2 separate regions of the Homo sapiens genome follow, and region 2 is linked to region 1. Evidence: fine-mapped expression QTL. Tissue or cell type: whole blood. Region 1 holds a variant in brackets; the other region holds the start of a gene. All regions are shown on one strand. Distances are from middle to middle.

Region 1 (8,000 bases):
GCCGTGACCCTCCCCGCGTGCTGAGCCCCCTCCCCCACAGATCGCGGTGGTCGTCAAGTACCTGTTCCAGTTTGGGTTCTTCCCCTGGAACAGCCACGTGGTGCTGCGGCGCTACGAGAACAAGCCCTACTTCCCGCCCCGCATCCTGGGCCTGGAGAAGACTGACGGCTACATCAAGTACGACCTGGTGCAGCTCATGGCCCTTTTCTTCCACCGCTCCCAGCTGCTGGTGAGTGTGAGCCTTGGCTGGCAATGCGGGGCTGGGCAGGCCCTCTGGGCACCTGTGCTCTCCACCAGGGAGGCAAGGCCCCCTCACCACACCCTCCCGCCCCTCAGTGCTATGGCCTCTGGGACCATGAGGAGGACTCACCATCCAAGGAGCATGACAAGAGCGGCGAGGAGGAGCAGGGAGCCGAGGAGGGGCCAGGGGTGCCTGCGGCCACCACCGAAGACCACATTCAGGTGGAAGCCAGGGTCGGACCCACGGACGGGACCCCAGAACCCCAAGTGGAGCTCAGGCCCCGTGATACGAGGCGCATCAGTCTACGTTTTAGAAGAAGGAAGAAGGAGGGCCCAGCACGGAAAGGAGCGGCAGCCATCGGTATAAGCGCCCTGCCTCACAACCTCCTGCCTACCCAGTTTTCTGAGTGGGGCTACTGCAGGGAGGGTCTTTCTCAGATGAGACGGCCAAGCCCAGTGCGAGGCCCACCTGGATCCCAGGAAGGTGCCACTTCTGAGCCACAGCTCCCGGCTCTGCCTACAGAGCCGTCCCTGACTGCTGCCCCCGGGGATGCTCCCCACGTGTAGGGTGACTGTTGGCCTGGGCTGGCCCCTCACAGTTGCCCCAGACAGAGGACACAGCCCCAGCTGTCTCCTTGCCAGTGACACTGGGAGCTTTCCTGTGCTCCGTCTGCTTGTCTGTCAAACAGGGAGAATGCCAGCCTCTTAGGGTGGTCAGGAGCCATGAGCCAGGCCCAGTCCCCAGGGGGCCCAGGCAGAAGTCAGCTTTTCCCTACAGAAGCTGAGGACAGGGAGGAAGAAGAGGGGGAGGAAGAGAAAGAGGCCCCCACGGGGAGAGAGAAGAGGCCAAGCCGCTCTGGAGGAAGAGTAAGGGCGGCCGGGCGGCGGCTGCAGGGCTTCTGCCTGTCCCTGTGAGTGATGGCGGCCGGGGGCAGCTGGGGAGTGGGGGTGGGGAGGCGGGTACTGGGCCCAGGCTGAGCGCCCCCTTCCGCAGGGCCCAGGGCACATATCGGCCGCTACGGCGCTTCTTCCACGACATCCTGCACACCAAGTACCGCGCAGCCACCGACGTCTATGCCCTCATGTTCCTGGCTGATGTTGTCGACTTCATCATCATCATTTTTGGCTTCTGGGCCTTTGGGGTGAGCCAGGCCCGGGACCCAAACCCAGTGTACGCAGAGCTCAGCAGCCACCCACATCCCCTGGGCTTGGCTCCCCCTGACCTGTGCTCTCCTGGCCACAGAAGCACTCGGCGGCCACAGACATCACGTCCTCCCTATCAGACGACCAGGTACCCGAGGCTTTCCTGGTCATGCTGCTGATCCAGTTCAGTACCATGGTGGTTGACCGCGCCCTCTACCTGCGCAAGACCGTGCTGGGCAAGCTGGCCTTCCAGGTGGCGCTGGTGCTGGCCATCCACCTATGGATGTTCTTCATCCTGCCCGCCGTCACTGAGAGGTGGGCCCACGCGTGGGGGCGCTCGGTCTCCAGGGGCGGGGCAGTGCAGGCTGGGGGCCCTGCGGGGCTGTTTCTGATGGGGTCCTTGACCTGGCCATCCCGCCCCAGGATGTTCAACCAGAATGTGGTGGCCCAGCTCTGGTACTTCGTGAAGTGCATCTACTTCGCCCTGTCCGCCTACCAGATCCGCTGCGGCTACCCCACCCGCATCCTCGGCAACTTCCTCACCAAGAAGTACAATCATCTCAACCTCTTCCTCTTCCAGGGGTGAGTGCAGGTCCGCCGGGGTGGGGGTCACGGCCCGGGCATGAGGGAGCCCACCTGACGGGAACCCTGGCTGTGGGCAGGTTCCGGCTGGTGCCGTTCCTGGTGGAGCTGCGGGCAGTGATGGACTGGGTGTGGACGGACACCACGCTGTCCCTGTCCAGCTGGATGTGTGTGGAGGACATCTATGCCAACATCTTCATCATCAAATGCAGCCGAGAGACAGAGAAGGTGCCTGGGCCCAGGGCGGGGGCCGGGACAAGGGCCAGGGATATGCCCTCTCCCTAAGACAGAGGCACTGCTGCCACGAGAACCCGTGGTGCTGGAGGCCCTCCCAGGGCTCGGAGCCCATGGGGACATGAGGCGAGCCCACCCACTAGCTGATCACGAGGCCAGTGATCTTGGCAGCTGCGAGTGAGTGCTGGGCGCAGAAGTGGGCAGCGGAGTTGGTCCTGTTCCAGGCAGGCTGGCAGCAGAGCAGGGCCTGGTGCAGGGAGGACCGGACAGCCACTGTTTGCTGCATTCTTGTTTAATGGCCTTTCTCAGAGAGAATTCGTGCGTCAGACCACTCCCCCACGTAAAAAGTACAACTCAGGGGTTTCTAGTGGATTCACAGTTGAGCATCTGCCTTCTCACCACTTCAAAAAGAAACCCCGGGCCGGGCACAGCGGCTCACCCCTATCATCCCAGCACTGTAAGAGACCCAGGAGGGAGGTACTGCTCAAGGCCAGGAGTTCAAGATCTGCACGGCCACAAGCGAGACCCTGCCTCAGCAAATGTAAAAATAAAACAATTAGCTGGCAATGGCAGCTCATGCCTATGGTCCCAGCACTTTGGGAGGCCAAAGGAGGAGGATCAGTTGAGGCCAGGAGTTTTAAGACCAGCCTGGGCAACATAGTGAGTGAGACTCTCTCTACAAAAAAATAAACGTTAGCTGGGTGTGATGGTGCACACTTGTGCTCCCAGCTACTCTGGAGGCTGAGGTGGGAGGATGGCTTGAGGCCAGGAGTACAGGGCTGCATTAAGCCTGATCACACCACTGCACTCCAGCTTGGGCAACAGAGTGAGACCCTGTCTCTAAAAAAGTAAAAAGAAGAAACCCAGTGCCCATTGGCTGTCACTCGGTTTCCCCTCCCCTGGCCCCTAGTAACCCCTTGTCTAGGTCCTGGTTCTATGAGATTTGCCTACAGTGGATATTTCATGAAAACAGGCTCAGACAGCGTTTGTCCTTTTGTAATCAGCTTTCCTTGCTCAGCATGGTGTCTCTGAGGTCCACCCACGTGGCAGTATGGCCTTCCTGTTTATGGGCAAATGATATTCTGTGGCATGGATGGACCACAACATGCTCATCTGTTGATGGGCTGTTGCCCGTGATGCTGCCAGGCACGCCGGTGTACACGTCTGTGTGCCCGTGCCCCTGGTCCTGTGGCTGCACGCCAGGGCCGGAAGTGCTGGTGGTGGTTTCCATCATGAGGAGCTGCTGGTTTTCCATAGCAGCTCCACCATCTAAGGTTCCCACCACCAACACGAGGTTGCGGTTTCTCCACATCCTCAACAACCTGTTACTATGTCTTTTTTGTTCTGGCCATGCTGCTGAACGGGTGGCTTGCTGTGGGCTCTTCTCAGTTCCCTGTTGACCGACGCTGAGCGTCTTTTCATGTGCTTGGCCATTTGTGTATCTTCTCTGGGGAAATGTCTATTCAAATCCTTTCTCCATAGTTTAGTTGGGCTTTTGAGATAGGATCTCAGGCTGAAGTGCAGTGGCATGACCTTCACTCACTGTAGCCTCTGCCTCCCAGGTTCAAGCGATTCTCCCACCTCAGCCTCCCGAGTAGCTGGGACTACAGGTGTGCACCACCAGGCCTGGCTAGTCTTTTGTATTTTTGGCCAGGTTCGTCTCAAACTCCTGACCTCAAAGTGCTGGGATGACAAGTGTGAGCCGCCACACCCAGCAGTTGGGTTGTTTTTTATTAGAGTTTTTTCTGTTTTTCTGCAGATACATTGGCTAGAAATGACTGAATTGGAAGAATTCTCTGTATTCTCTGGTTGCTAGAACCTTATCAATTAAAATTTGCAGAAAATTTCTCCAATTCTATGGACTGTCTCTTAAATTTTCTTGGTGTCTTTGGAAGCACAAAGTATTTATTTTGGTAATATCTGGTTTACTTTGTTTCCTTCGCCAAATCCAGGTTCATGAAGATTTGCCCGTTTTCTTCTAAAAGTTCTATAGTTTTAGCTCTGAAGTTTCGCTCTTTGATCCACTTTGAGGTAAATTTTGGCACATGGTATGAGGCAGGAGTTGCGTTTCATTCTCCTGCCTGGGGCGGTGCCTGCACCGTGTTGAAAAAGGTTGTCCGTTCCCACTGAACGGTCACAGCTCCCTTGTCTAAGATCAACGACCCCTGAACATGAGGGTTCCAACTGGACTCTTAGTTCTACTCCACTGGCCTGTGTCTGCCCACCATTACTACCGC[T/C]GTGCCATACTGAGGTCAGGCTGGGGCTTTTCTGGGCTGCTGGGTGAGCTGGAGAATGCGGTTGTGTGACCCGCAGGAAGGGCAGAGCTGAGCGTATGACCTGTGTCGTTCCCCTCCAGAAATACCCGCAGCCCAAAGGGCAGAAGAAGAAGAAGATCGTCAAGTACGGCATGGGTGGCCTCATCATCCTCTTCCTCATCGCCATCATCTGGTTCCCACTGCTCTTCATGTCGCTGGTGCGCTCCGTGGTTGGGGTTGTCAACCAGCCCATCGATGTCACCGTCACCCTGAAGCTGGGCGGCTATGAGGTGAGCATGTGTGGGTCCGCCTGTCCATTCCCATCCCCTGGGGGTTCTGGCCAAGGTGGTGCACCACCCCCAGCCGCTCCTCCACGCTCATCTTCGTGGCCCCGTGTCCCCGTGCCTGCCCCAGCCGCTGTTCACCATGAGCGCCCAGCAGCCGTCCATCATCCCCTTCACGGCCCAGGCCTATGAGGAGCTGTCCCGGCAGTTTGACCCCCAGCCGGTAAGTGGCCTCTGCCCTGTGAAAGCTGGTGTGGGGAGGCGGCTGCAGTCACTGAGGGTGTCACTTGTACCCAGCTGGCCATGCAGTTCATCAGCCAGTACAGCCCTGAGGACATCGTCACGGCGCAGATTGAGGGCAGCTCCGGGGCGCTGTGGCGCATCAGTCCCCCCAGCCGTGCCCAGATGAAGCGGGAGCTCTACAACGGCACGGCCGACATCACCCTGCGCTTCACCTGGAACTTCCAGAGGTTCGTCCTGGACTTGGGGCAGTGCCTGGGTGGGTGGACCCACTACAGTGGGTCACGCTGTGTTCCCACCCCCAGGGACCTGGCGAAGGGAGGCACTGTGGAGTATGCCAACGAGAAGCACATGCTGGCCCTGGCCCCCAACAGCACTGCACGGCGGCAGCTGGCCAGCCTGCTCGAGGGCACCTCGGACCAGTCTGTGTGAGTGAAGGGCCCGGGTGGTGGGCAGGAGGGCTGTGCCAGGTTGGCTGGGCCAGGCCTGACCTGCCAGCACCTCCCTGCAGGGTCATCCCTAATCTCTTCCCCAAGTACATCCGTGCCCCCAACGGGCCCGAAGCCAACCCTGTGAAGCAGCTGCAGCCCAGTGAGTATGGGCGTGGGGGTTGGGGGAGGCTAGAGAGGGGTGACCTGCGGCCTCAACGATCTTCTCCCTCCATCCCAGATGAGGAGGCCGACTACCTCGGCGTGCGTATCCAGCTGCGGAGGGAGCAGGGTGCGGGGGCCACCGGCTTCCTCGAATGGTGGGTCATCGAGCTGCAGGAGTGCCGGACCGACTGCAACCTGCTGCCCATGGTCATTTTCAGTGACAAGGTCAGCCCACCGAGCCTCGGCTTCCTGGCTGGCTACGGGTGAGTGAGTGGCTGGGGGGGCACCCCGCAGCTCGGGGGGCTCCGGGCGGCCCCAGGACTCACCAGCTTCCCCCGCAGCATCATGGGGCTGTACGTGTCCATCGTGCTGGTCATCGGCAAGTTCGTGCGCGGATTCTTCAGCGAGATCTCGCACTCCATTATGTTCGAGGAGCTGCCGTGCGTGGACCGCATCCTCAAGCTCTGCCAGGACATCTTCCTGGTGCGGGAGACTCGGGAGCTGGAGCTGGAGGAGGAGTTGTACGCCAAGCTCATCTTCCTCTACCGCTCACCGGAGACCATGATCAAGTGGACTCGTGAGAAGGAGTAGGAGCTGCTGCTGGCGCCCGAGAGGGAAGGAGCCGGCCTGCTGGGCAGCGTGGCCACAAGGGGCGGCACTCCTCAGGCCGGGGGAGCCACTGCCCCGTCCAAGGCCGCCAGCTGTGATGCATCCTCCCGGCCTGCCTGAGCCCTGATGCTGCTGTCAGAGAAGGACACTGCGTCCCCACGGCCTGCGTGGCGCTGCCGTCCCCCACGTGTACTGTAGAGTTTTTTTTTTAATTAAAAAATGTTTTATTTATACAAATGGACAATCAGAGGCCAGTCCCCCGTCCTTGCCTTCCGGCTCCAGTGTGGTGTACCAGGTGGCCACTGCCTGCTGTCCCGGCAAGCACGTCCTCACGCTCAGCTCTGGCCCGCCTCGTCGTCACTGTCCTCAATCAGACAGTCCCGGATCTCCTGCAAGCCCCAGGCCCTAGAGAGAAAGCTGCAGTGGGCACCAGCCCCGAGGCCCCTTACCCACGCGCCACGGCAGTGTGGGCCCCAGTACCTCTGTGTGCGGAGCTGGGCCTCAGCCAGGATGTACGGCGGCAGGGGGTCCAGTGAGGGCTGCAACAGAGGCCGGTGTCGAGGGGCCAAGAAACCTGCCAGCACCCCCTCAAGCCACCCACGAGGTGACGGCCTTCCCGCGTCCCCAAGCCCGGCCCAGGACAGGTGGGCACGTACTCACCAAGTCCTTCATGTTCACGCGGCAGCTGTAGCACAGCTGCTCCTCAATGCAGGCTTGGGGGTCCTCCCTGCGGGAGCAGAGCTGGCTGTGTGCCCACCTTGGCACCTCAATGCCGTGCAGTGTGGGGTAAGGACAGGTCCCCCTCCCGCCCCATGCAGCTGGCCATGGGTGGCAGGGACAGGGACTCACCTCCTGCAGGCCCCCTGGCCACAGCGCTGGGCCCAGCCCACCCCTGGAGAACAGCAGGGCCCCGGGGGTGTCCGGGTCTCAGTCAGGGGGATGGGTGACTGCATCTGGGAGAGACGCGAGGAGGTCTGAGCCCCAAAAGCCGTGGCACTGTCTGCAAGCAGAGAGGGGGTGACGGAGCCTGGGGCTGCTGAGCCCCCACACCCACTCCCTGGCTCCCTCCCCGCATCACCCCAAGAGCATGAAACACAGACCAGCGGCGTCGACGTCCAGGGCACACATGCAGAGGAGGCAGCGGGGGCCGGAGTCGCCAGCAGCAGGGCCATCCCGGGGGCCCTTCACCAGCTTCTCACTTGTCCTGTGGCCGGATTGTGGGAGGAGCAGGTGAATCACACGGGCTGGGGCTCCACCCTAAGCCCTGGCCTGAGCACGAGTGGTGAGCTCACCACCCGCACACACCCGCGCACAGCACACACCCGCGCACCCCCCGCACACACCCACACACACCCACACCTGTACACAGTGCTGACAGTGGAGGGGAACTGGGTCTGCAGCCTGAGGATGAAGGCCTCCATCAGCCGGTGGATGCTGGCCTTTTCAGGGGCCTAGGGACAATCAGATTGGAGGCTATGGGAAAGCCCAGAGGCCAGCCCCAGGCTGGGGCAGAGTCCCCAGGACAGGTGCCGTGGGTTCCACGCTGCTGGCCCACATGGGTCTGGCTTTGCTGCGACTGCTCAAGGCAGCCAGAGAACCCGCTTCAGCAGTGCACCCACTGTGGGGTCCTCCTGTCACCCCCACACCCTCACGGCACAGGGTGGGCTCAGAGGATGCAGCACTGCTGGGGGCCACAGCAGGAGTCACTGAAGGTGTGCTGGTGACCTGAGCCTGTGAGAGGCTGCCCAGCCCACATGGCCCACCCCGGTGTCAATGGTGAGAGAGGTTGCCCAGCCCACAAGGCCCACCTTGGTGTCGAC
Region 2 (8,000 bases), 68 kb before region 1:
TGTCTCACACACACACACACAAGTTCATCCCTGTTGTAGCGTACATCAGAGTTTCATTTCTTTTTATGGACAAATAATATCAGATTGTATGAACAGACCACATTTTGTTTCTACACTCCATTAACAGACTCTGGGGTTGCTGCCTCTTGAAATTATTATTTATTTTATTACTTTTTTTGAGACAGGGTCTTGCTCTTTCACCCAGGCAGGAGTGCAGTGGCATGATCTCAGCTCACTGCAATCTCCACCTCCTGGGATCAAGCGATTCTCCCGCCTCAGCCTCCCGAGTAGCTGGAACCACAGGCATGCGCTACCATGCCCGGCTAATTTTTGTATTTTTAGTAGAGACAGGGTTTCACCATGTTGGCCAGGCTGGTCTTGAACCCCTGACCTCAAGTGATCCACCCACCTCAGCCTCCCAAAGTGCTGGTGTTGCAGGTGTGAGCCACAGTGCCCGGCCAAAATTATTATTATTTTTGAGACAGGGTCTTGGCCTGTTGTCCAGGCCGGAGTGCAGTGGCGCCATCACTACTCACTGCAGCCTCCACCTCCTGGGCTCTAGAGATCCTCCCACCTCAGCCTCCTAAGTAGCCGGGACCACAGGCAGGCACCACCACATCTGGCTAATTTTTTTTTTTTTTGAGGCGGAGTCTCGCTCTGTCACCCAGGCTGGAGTGTAATGGCATGGTCTTGGCTCACTGCAACCTCTGCCTCCCGGGTTCAAGCGATTCTGCCTCAGCTTCCCGAGTAGCTGGGATTACAGGTGCCTGCTGCCACGCCTGGCTAATTTTTGTATTTTAGTAGAGACAGGGTTTCACCATGTTGGCCAGGCTGGTCTCGAACTCCTGACCCTGTGATCCACCCGCCTCAGCCTCCCAAAGTGCTGGGATTACAGGCATGAGGCACCATGCCTGCCTGGCATGCCTGGCTAATTTTTATTTTTTGTATAGATGGGGTCTTGCTGTGTTGTCCAGGCTGGTCTCCAACTCCTGGCCACAAGCCATTCTCCTGCCTTAGGCCCCCAAAGTGTTGGGATTACAGACGTGAGCCACCACACCCAGCCTGAAATTAATTTTTAAGTATAGACAAGTAATGGTGACTATGTTATCATTGGGGAAAAAGTTACAACCTGCATGATAAAGCTTAAAGTCCCTGTGACCCCTCTTGCCCTGGCTTTTCCTCTCTCCCAAGGGGACCTGACCATTGTTGCTCTCCCAAGACTAAGTCACTGGCCGGGCATGGTGGCTCACACCTGTAATCCCAGCAGTTTGGGAGGTCAAGGCAGGCGGATCATTTGAGGTCAGGAGTTCAAGACCTGGCCAACATTTTGAAATCCCATCTCTACTAAAAATACAAAAGTTGGCCAGGTGTGGTGGCACACGCCTGTGATCCCAGCTACTTGGGAGGTTGAGGCAGGAGAATCACTAGAACTCAGGAGGCGGAGGGTGCAGTGAGCCGAGATTGCTCCACTGCACTCCAGCCTGGACAACAGTGGCAGACTTTGTCTCAAGAAAATACAATAAAATAAAAAATAAATCACTGTTTTAAACAGTGACAAAAATAAAAAGCAACAGCAAGTTGAGAAAGGGCTCCCAGCTGTGGGTCAGTGGGACAGGAGTGACTTTGGACTTGGAATCTGGAAAGCTGGGTGCAAAGGCCGGTCTATTCCTTTGGCAAATGGTTATCCCGCTCTGGCCCTTAGCGTCCTCTTCTGCAACAGGGGTTGAGTTAGAACACGGTCCAAATTCCTGAACGGGCAGTGAACTGGGCACAGGTGGGCTCCCCTGCCCTTGCCCGCCCCACCTCTCCCTGGCTGGCAAGCAGAGATCTTTTTCAGAGTATTTGTCTCCATTTTGCTAATTTTATTTTGTGAATAAGTGAATTATGTATGAAGCAAAATATTAAAACAGCACCAAAGGGTATAGGTGAAGACCAGGTCTCCCTCCCACCCCAAGTGGGTGAGCGTGGCCCTGAGTGTAGCTGCTTGCTTTTCCCAATTGTTAGCACTGTAACTTAGCAATTGTTCCTCCTTGATAACAGAGCAATTGCGGGATTCTCTCTAACCGCTGCTACAGAGTGCCATTGTATCTTAGCTTCATGTTGATACAAAACACCTAGCCGGATTCTGTTTTTTACCTGCTGTGTAGCACTCCACTGTGAGACACGCTATCATTTATTTGACAAGCTTCTGTGGGCAGAGTTTTTCTGCTTTTTGCTGCTTGAACAATTCTAGGACACATACATCCTCTACCTTTGCAAGTCCATCTGCAGGGCAAGCTCCCAGACTTCCCCACCTCTGCAGCAACTTTTCAAAGCCTGACCAGAGGGTGAGACTTGCAGAGAAAGTAAATCAGCCTTTTTTTTTTTTCTTCTTTGAGATGGAGTCTCATTCTGTTGCCCAGGCTGGAGTGCAGTGGGGTGATCTCGGCTCACTGCAAGCTCCGCCTCCCGGGTTCACGCCATTCTCCTGCCTCAGCCTTCCGAGTAGCTGGGACTACAGGCGCCCGCCACCGCGCCCGGCTAATTTTTTGTATTTTTAGTAGAGATGGGGTTTCACCGTGTTAGCCAGGATGGTCTCCATCTGCTGACCTCGTGATCCACCCGCCTCGGCCTCCAAAAGTGCTGGGATTACAGGCGTGAGCCACCGCACCCGGCCTATATCAGCCTTTAAACACTAGACTTCCCATGAAAATCTCCATTTCTGGGTGGTTTTTTTTTTTTTAATGGAGTTTCGTTCTTGTCACTCAGGCTGGAGTGCAATGGCATGATCTCGGCTCACGGCAACCTCTGCCTCCCAGGTTCAAGCGATTTTCCTGCCTCGGCCTCCTGAGTAGTTGGGAATACAGGCGCCTGCCATCACGCCCGGCTAATTTTTGTATATTTATTTATTTATTTATTTATTTATTTATTTATTTATTGAGACGGAGTCTGGCTCTGTCGCCCAGGCTGGAGTGCAGTGGCGCTATCTCGGCTCACTGCAAGCTCCGCCTCCTGGGTTGATGCCATTCTCCTGCCTCAGCCTCCCGAGTAGTTGGGACTACAGGAGCCCGCCACCACGCCCGGCTAATTTTTTATGTTTTTAGTAGAGATGGGTTTTCACCGTGTTAGCCAGGATGGTCTCGATCTCCTGACCTGGTGATCCACCCGCCTCGGCCTCCCAAAGTGCTGGGATTACAGGCGTGAGCCACCGCGCCCGGCCTAATTTTTGTATTTTTAGTAGAGACGGGGTTTCACCATGTTGGCCAGGCTGGTCTCGAACTCCTGACGTCAAGTGATCCCCCGACCCCCTACCCCCTTGCCTCAGCCCCGCAAAGTGCTGGGATTACAGGCCTGAGCCACTGCCCCGCCATCTTTTTTTTTTTTTTTTTTTTTTGAGCTGGAGGGTGTGGGCTTGTGCTGGGCTCTCATGAGTTGCCAGTGCCTTGAGGCTCAGTGGCCACAGTCCCCCCAGCCCCACTCCCTGCCTTACGCAGCTGAGTTTGAGAGCCATGAACTGAGCCCAATTAAACGGTGTAGAGCCCTTTGCCCTCTTTCTGTGCCCATCTCAAGGGCAGACGAAGGCCAAACTGACGTGGCCTGGGTGAGGGTCCCGAACACCCTGGACTCAGACCCTACCTCTCCGTGGCAGGGCGCCGCGGCAGCAGGTGCACAGGCCGTGGCTCTCACTCTCACCGTCTCACGCCAGAGCGACCCGGGCAAAGCCGCGCGCGGTGGCCGGCGTGGCTGGGAGCAGCCCCCGAGCCCCCGTCAGACCAACGCGGATCGCGGCACTGCTGCGACCCGAGCATCCCGCGTGCTCCCTCCGGGACCACTAGGCCCGGCCGCCGCGGGAACTCCGAGCCTCCCCACGGTCCCCAGGGGGCGCTGCGTGCTCGCGCCTCGGGGAGCAAAGCGAAAGTCGCTCGGGCACGCGGGGTGCAGTTGCGCGTGGGGCGCTGCCTGGGGGAGCCAGAGGCCCCGGGACCCCTTATGTAGCGCCCGGGCCCCAGCCGCAGCCCACCCAGCGAGAAGCGCCCCTGCCCACCGCCGCGCACGCTCGGAGCCGCGGGGCCAAGACTGCGGGAGGGGAGGGGTCCGCTCCGGGCCAGCGCCAGTCGGGGGTCTCCAGGCCCCAACGCACCAGGGCGGGCCGGAGGCGGGACGGGCCGCGCGGGACAGCGGAGGGGGTGCCTGGGCGCGCCGGGCCGTCGGGGAAGCGCGGAGGCGGGCACGCCGGGGAGGGCGGGAGGGGGCCGAGCTTATAAAGGCCCGCGGGCGGAGGAGGGCGGGAGCCGCCGTCCGGCCCAGCTCGGCCCCAGTGAGCCGAGCGCTGCGCTCCGCCGAGGGGCAGGGCGGTCGCCTGAGCGAGCGCGGGCCCGGGACGTCGGCACCGGCGGGGCGGCCGAAGGAGAAGGAGGAAGAGGAGAAGGCGGCGCGCGGGTCCCCGCGGGTCAGCCATGGCGCGCCGGCCCCGGGGCCCCCGCACCGCCCCATAGCGCCGCGGCGTCCGCTCGGTCTGGGCCGGGCCCTGGGCCCTCCAGCCATGGAGCCGCACGTGCTCGGCGCGGTCCTGTACTGGCTGCTGCTGCCCTGCGCGCTGCTGGCTGGTGAGTGGGGGGCGGGCGCCTGGGGGCGACGGGAGGGGGCTGCGTCTCGGCTCCCCACGGCCTGGACACCGGACGACGCCGGCCGGGGCGAGGGCTGCGGGCGAGCGGGCGCGGAAATTCCCAGGGACGCGCGACCCGGGCGCCCGCATTCCTGAAGCATGAGCGCGCCAGGCGGCGGCGGGGCTCCTGTCCCAGGGCCGGGCTGGAAGGGCGGCGGCGGCTGGGGGAGACGGCACCGCGTGCCCACGGGGGCGGTCGAGCGAGCGCCGGGCATAGCGCGGCTGGCGTCTCCGCCGGGGCGCTGCGGAGAGGAGGCCGCCGGGCGAGGCGGTGTTTGCCCCGGTGGGAAGGGCCGCGGCGGTGGTGGGGGGAGCACGAATCTCTTTTTCTCTTTCGGGTTTAAAAAAAAAAGCGCAAAGTTGCATCAGGACTTCCTGACAATCTGGGAGAAGGCGGGCTTCCTGCCTGGAGCTGTTTAATTTGGAGCTTCCCGAGCCCAACGAACGTCCGTGCCCAGGGCCCAGCCCCGCTCACCGCTGCACCCCCCTCTGCCGGACTGAGGCGGTCCCACACTTTGGAAAAAAATAGTGTGGGTTCCTCCCTGGTCCTCCCTTGCCCTACTGGGCTCAGTTTCGCAGGGGCGGGGGCCGGCCTCTGCCCTGGTCTGGGGGAGGGGACACCCCCGGAGGCTGTGGCCTGGTGTCAGGGCGGGGCAGGGGTCCCCAGTCCTGGCATCTGTGTTCCCTGCTTGCCGGGCAGTGGTGCCCCTTTCGCGAAGCACACCCGGGTGGCTTGGTGCTGCACGGCCTGGCACCCCTACCCTTCCCCGACCCTGGCCTAGCCGGGACCCAGGGTCCGCGCCCTCCGCCCGGGGGCTCCCCACGTGTGATTGATCTGGGAAGCAGTCGGATGGAATTAACCCACGGACAAGTGGGACGGTTTGCATTGGGAGTCCGCCATGGACACGGCAGGTGGGGCCTTTTGATTGTAAAAGCCCTTTCGGAGCCCTTGCCTCGCTCCAGGTGGGAGCTCGCCCAGCGCTAGCTTTGGGGATCTAGAGCCGCCTGCCTGAGGCTCCCAGACAGACTGCGTTTTGATCGGTCGCACAGAAAGGTGGTGAAACTTGGGGAAGATTTTCTAGACAGGAATCAATGAAAACCATTGAGGCTGGAGAGGAGAGGTTTTGAGCAACTCTCTTCAGTGCGGTCAGCCCTGTGTGGACTGGGCAGCCTGGGACCTGCTCCCAGTGCAGGGTCAGATGGGCCGTAAACAGGGCCCGGCTGTGTTCCTTCCTGTGCCTTGAAAACAAGCAGGACAGCCTGGCACAGAGGCAGAGTCTAGAGCTGACAGGCCTTAGAGAGGGAAACAGGAAAGCTTCTGAAACGTCCCGTTCACACTGATCGTTCCATTTCCTCTTGTGTCTGAGTGGGAGCGGGTGTCCTCCCTGCAGGGAATGCCCCCCCTCTCAGATGGCAGCTGCTCCTTGGGCAGAGTTGGCAATGTTTTTCTTTAAATGACCAGATGGTAAATATTTTCATGTCACAAAATCTTCTTCTTCTGGTATTTTTCCAGCCATTAAATGTAAAAGCCCTCCTGAGTTCATGGGCTGTACCTAAACAGGTGTTGAGCCCGATTCTGTGGCACATGTGGTTTGCTGCCCCCTGGGCATTGGTCAGGGGGCCTGGGTTCTGCCTTCTCGATTGCTATCCGCGTGGGGGATCTGGGGGAGGGATCACTGTTCTTCTTGCTTTTGGCCTCCTTGGGGAGGATGGGGAGGTAGCCCAGGGGTGCTCACCCAGGCCCCGTGTCAGTCTTCTATGAAACTTTTAAAGAATAGTGATGACTGACTGTCTGTCTGTATGGTACTTTCCTTAAACCTAAAACTGGTCCCAAATAAAGTCTCTTAATTTGAAAGATGCTGAAGCCCGGGCCATACCCCACACTGATTCTGTGTCTGGGGATGGGGCGTGGGGCCTGGGCCTCACTCAGTGTTTTCTCTCAGTCACCTGGGGGAGATGGAAGTGGAGCCGGCCAAGAACCCTGCCTGCCTGCCTGCTGGCCGGGACTCCTGAGTCAGGCTCTCTGGCCCTGGGGTGTGGGCAGCTCCAGATGGACCCGCGATGTGCAGGTTCAGCTGGCCTGGCCGGAGGTGGGACACTGGCTTTGCTGTCTTTGGAGTGCCCCCTCCCTCTCTGGCGAGCTTTGGCTGGAAGCAGTTCTACCGTGTTTTGGAAATGAATGAGGCCTTCAGAAGGCATTAGTCAGTGTGTGCCTGCGCTGGCTCAGACAGTGCCTGGTGAGGGTTTGAGTCATCCTGGGGTGCCCCTGGCCCCCACGCCCTCCCTCTCCAGTGCAGGATCATTACCCAAAAATCTGGCAGGGAGCTGCCCCACCCACAGGGAGCAGGGGCCTCCTTCAGCAGTCTCACCTAATGTTGCTGGAGCCTTGGGGGATCAGGGCCCATCTCTTCTAGAGAGATGTCAGGGCAGGGCTGGGCGCGATGGCTCACACCTGTAATCCCAGAGCTTCGGGAGGCCAAGGTGGGAGGATTGCTTGAGCGTAGCCATTCGAGAGCAGCCTGGGCAACGTAGAGATCCCCATCTCTATGAAAAATATTTAAAAATTAGCTGGGCATGGTGGTAGTGCACCTGTAGTCCCAGCTACTCAGGAGGCCAAGGTGGGATGATTGTTTGAGTCCAGGAGTTGGAGGCTACAGTGAGCCATGATTGTATGACTGCACTCCAGCCTGGGTGACAGACCCTGTCTCAAAAAAGAAAAAGGAAAAAAAAGGGCAGGACATTTGTGATTCTGATAATATGGGACCGCACCTCCAGTTCTATCAGTGGGAAATCTAGACAGGGCTGCGGAAAGCCAGCTGGTGCGAGAGGAGCCACCGTGTCACTGACTGTGGGACACCCACGTGGGCTGACAATATGGCTTCTGCTTTTCAGGGTGCCTCGTGGCACAGCCTAGGGGCACACCCACGGCCGGCAAGCTGGGCGTCACCTCCTTCAGGCTGATTGTCACTGAGAAGTGTCACCATTTAGCATGAGGGATGCTGCCTCCTTTTTCAGAACATTGTCACCATCAGGGTCTCACCACTCCTGGGAGGCGGCCGAGAAGCTGGGGAACAGCAGGCACTCGGCTCACAGTTGCTCAGCAGTGCAGACCCTCTGAGCTGAGCATGGCAGAGTCACCCTTCGGAGGCCTGTGCCCGGGTCTCAGGACCTGCACAGAACCCTGGCCTGTCCCATCCGAGGGTGCTGGGAAGAGCATGGCCGTGGCAGAGTAGGGTGGGAGCTGCTTTCCTCTGTGGCTTGGGGGCCCCTTCTGAGCATCAGCTCCCTGGTGTGACAGAGGGGCGCACTCTGTCCCCATGCTGGGCCTGGAGGCTGGATGAGTCAGCAGGAGAGC

The links. PIP is the estimated chance that this variant, and not a neighbour inherited with it, causes the effect.
Region 2: it holds the start of PIEZO1, and the variant in region 1 is fine-mapped to the expression of PIEZO1 in whole blood (TOPMed, PIP above 0.99). The same link has a PIP of 0.9 or more in esophagus muscle, hypothalamus and lung.

What each region holds. Positions count from the first base shown.
Region 1 is chr16:88,713,767-88,721,766 of GRCh38, reverse strand. CTU2 (cytosolic thiouridylase subunit 2) reads right to left here. Exons shown (of 15, transcript NM_001012759.3): 9 at 7,989-8,000; 10 at 7,540-7,631; 11 at 7,281-7,384; 12 at 7,030-7,180; 13 at 6,841-6,907; 14 at 6,661-6,719; 15 at 6,371-6,585. The coding sequence ends at 6,516. It overlaps PIEZO1 (piezo type mechanosensitive ion channel component 1 (Er blood group)), which reads left to right. Exons shown (of 51, transcript NM_001142864.4): 38 at 41-229; 39 at 337-601; 40 at 1,019-1,151; 41 at 1,235-1,382; 42 at 1,484-1,698; 43 at 1,807-1,965; 44 at 2,046-2,193; 45 at 4,556-4,744; 46 at 4,869-4,961; 47 at 5,036-5,208; 48 at 5,284-5,406; 49 at 5,490-5,569; 50 at 5,648-5,834; 51 at 5,913-6,429. The coding sequence ends at 6,162. MIR4722 (microRNA 4722) reads left to right here and starts at 5,430; the gene lies at 5,430-5,489. The variant T/C (reference allele first, on the strand shown) is at 4,437.
Region 2 is chr16:88,781,487-88,789,486 of GRCh38, reverse strand. It overlaps PIEZO1 (piezo type mechanosensitive ion channel component 1 (Er blood group)), which reads left to right and starts at 4,267. Exons shown (of 51, transcript NM_001142864.4): 1 at 4,267-4,586. The coding sequence starts at 4,523. RefSeq lists silencers at 3,769-4,098, 4,139-4,618, 5,119-5,438 and enhancers at 4,123-5,036, 7,519-7,598, 7,609-7,978, 7,999-8,000.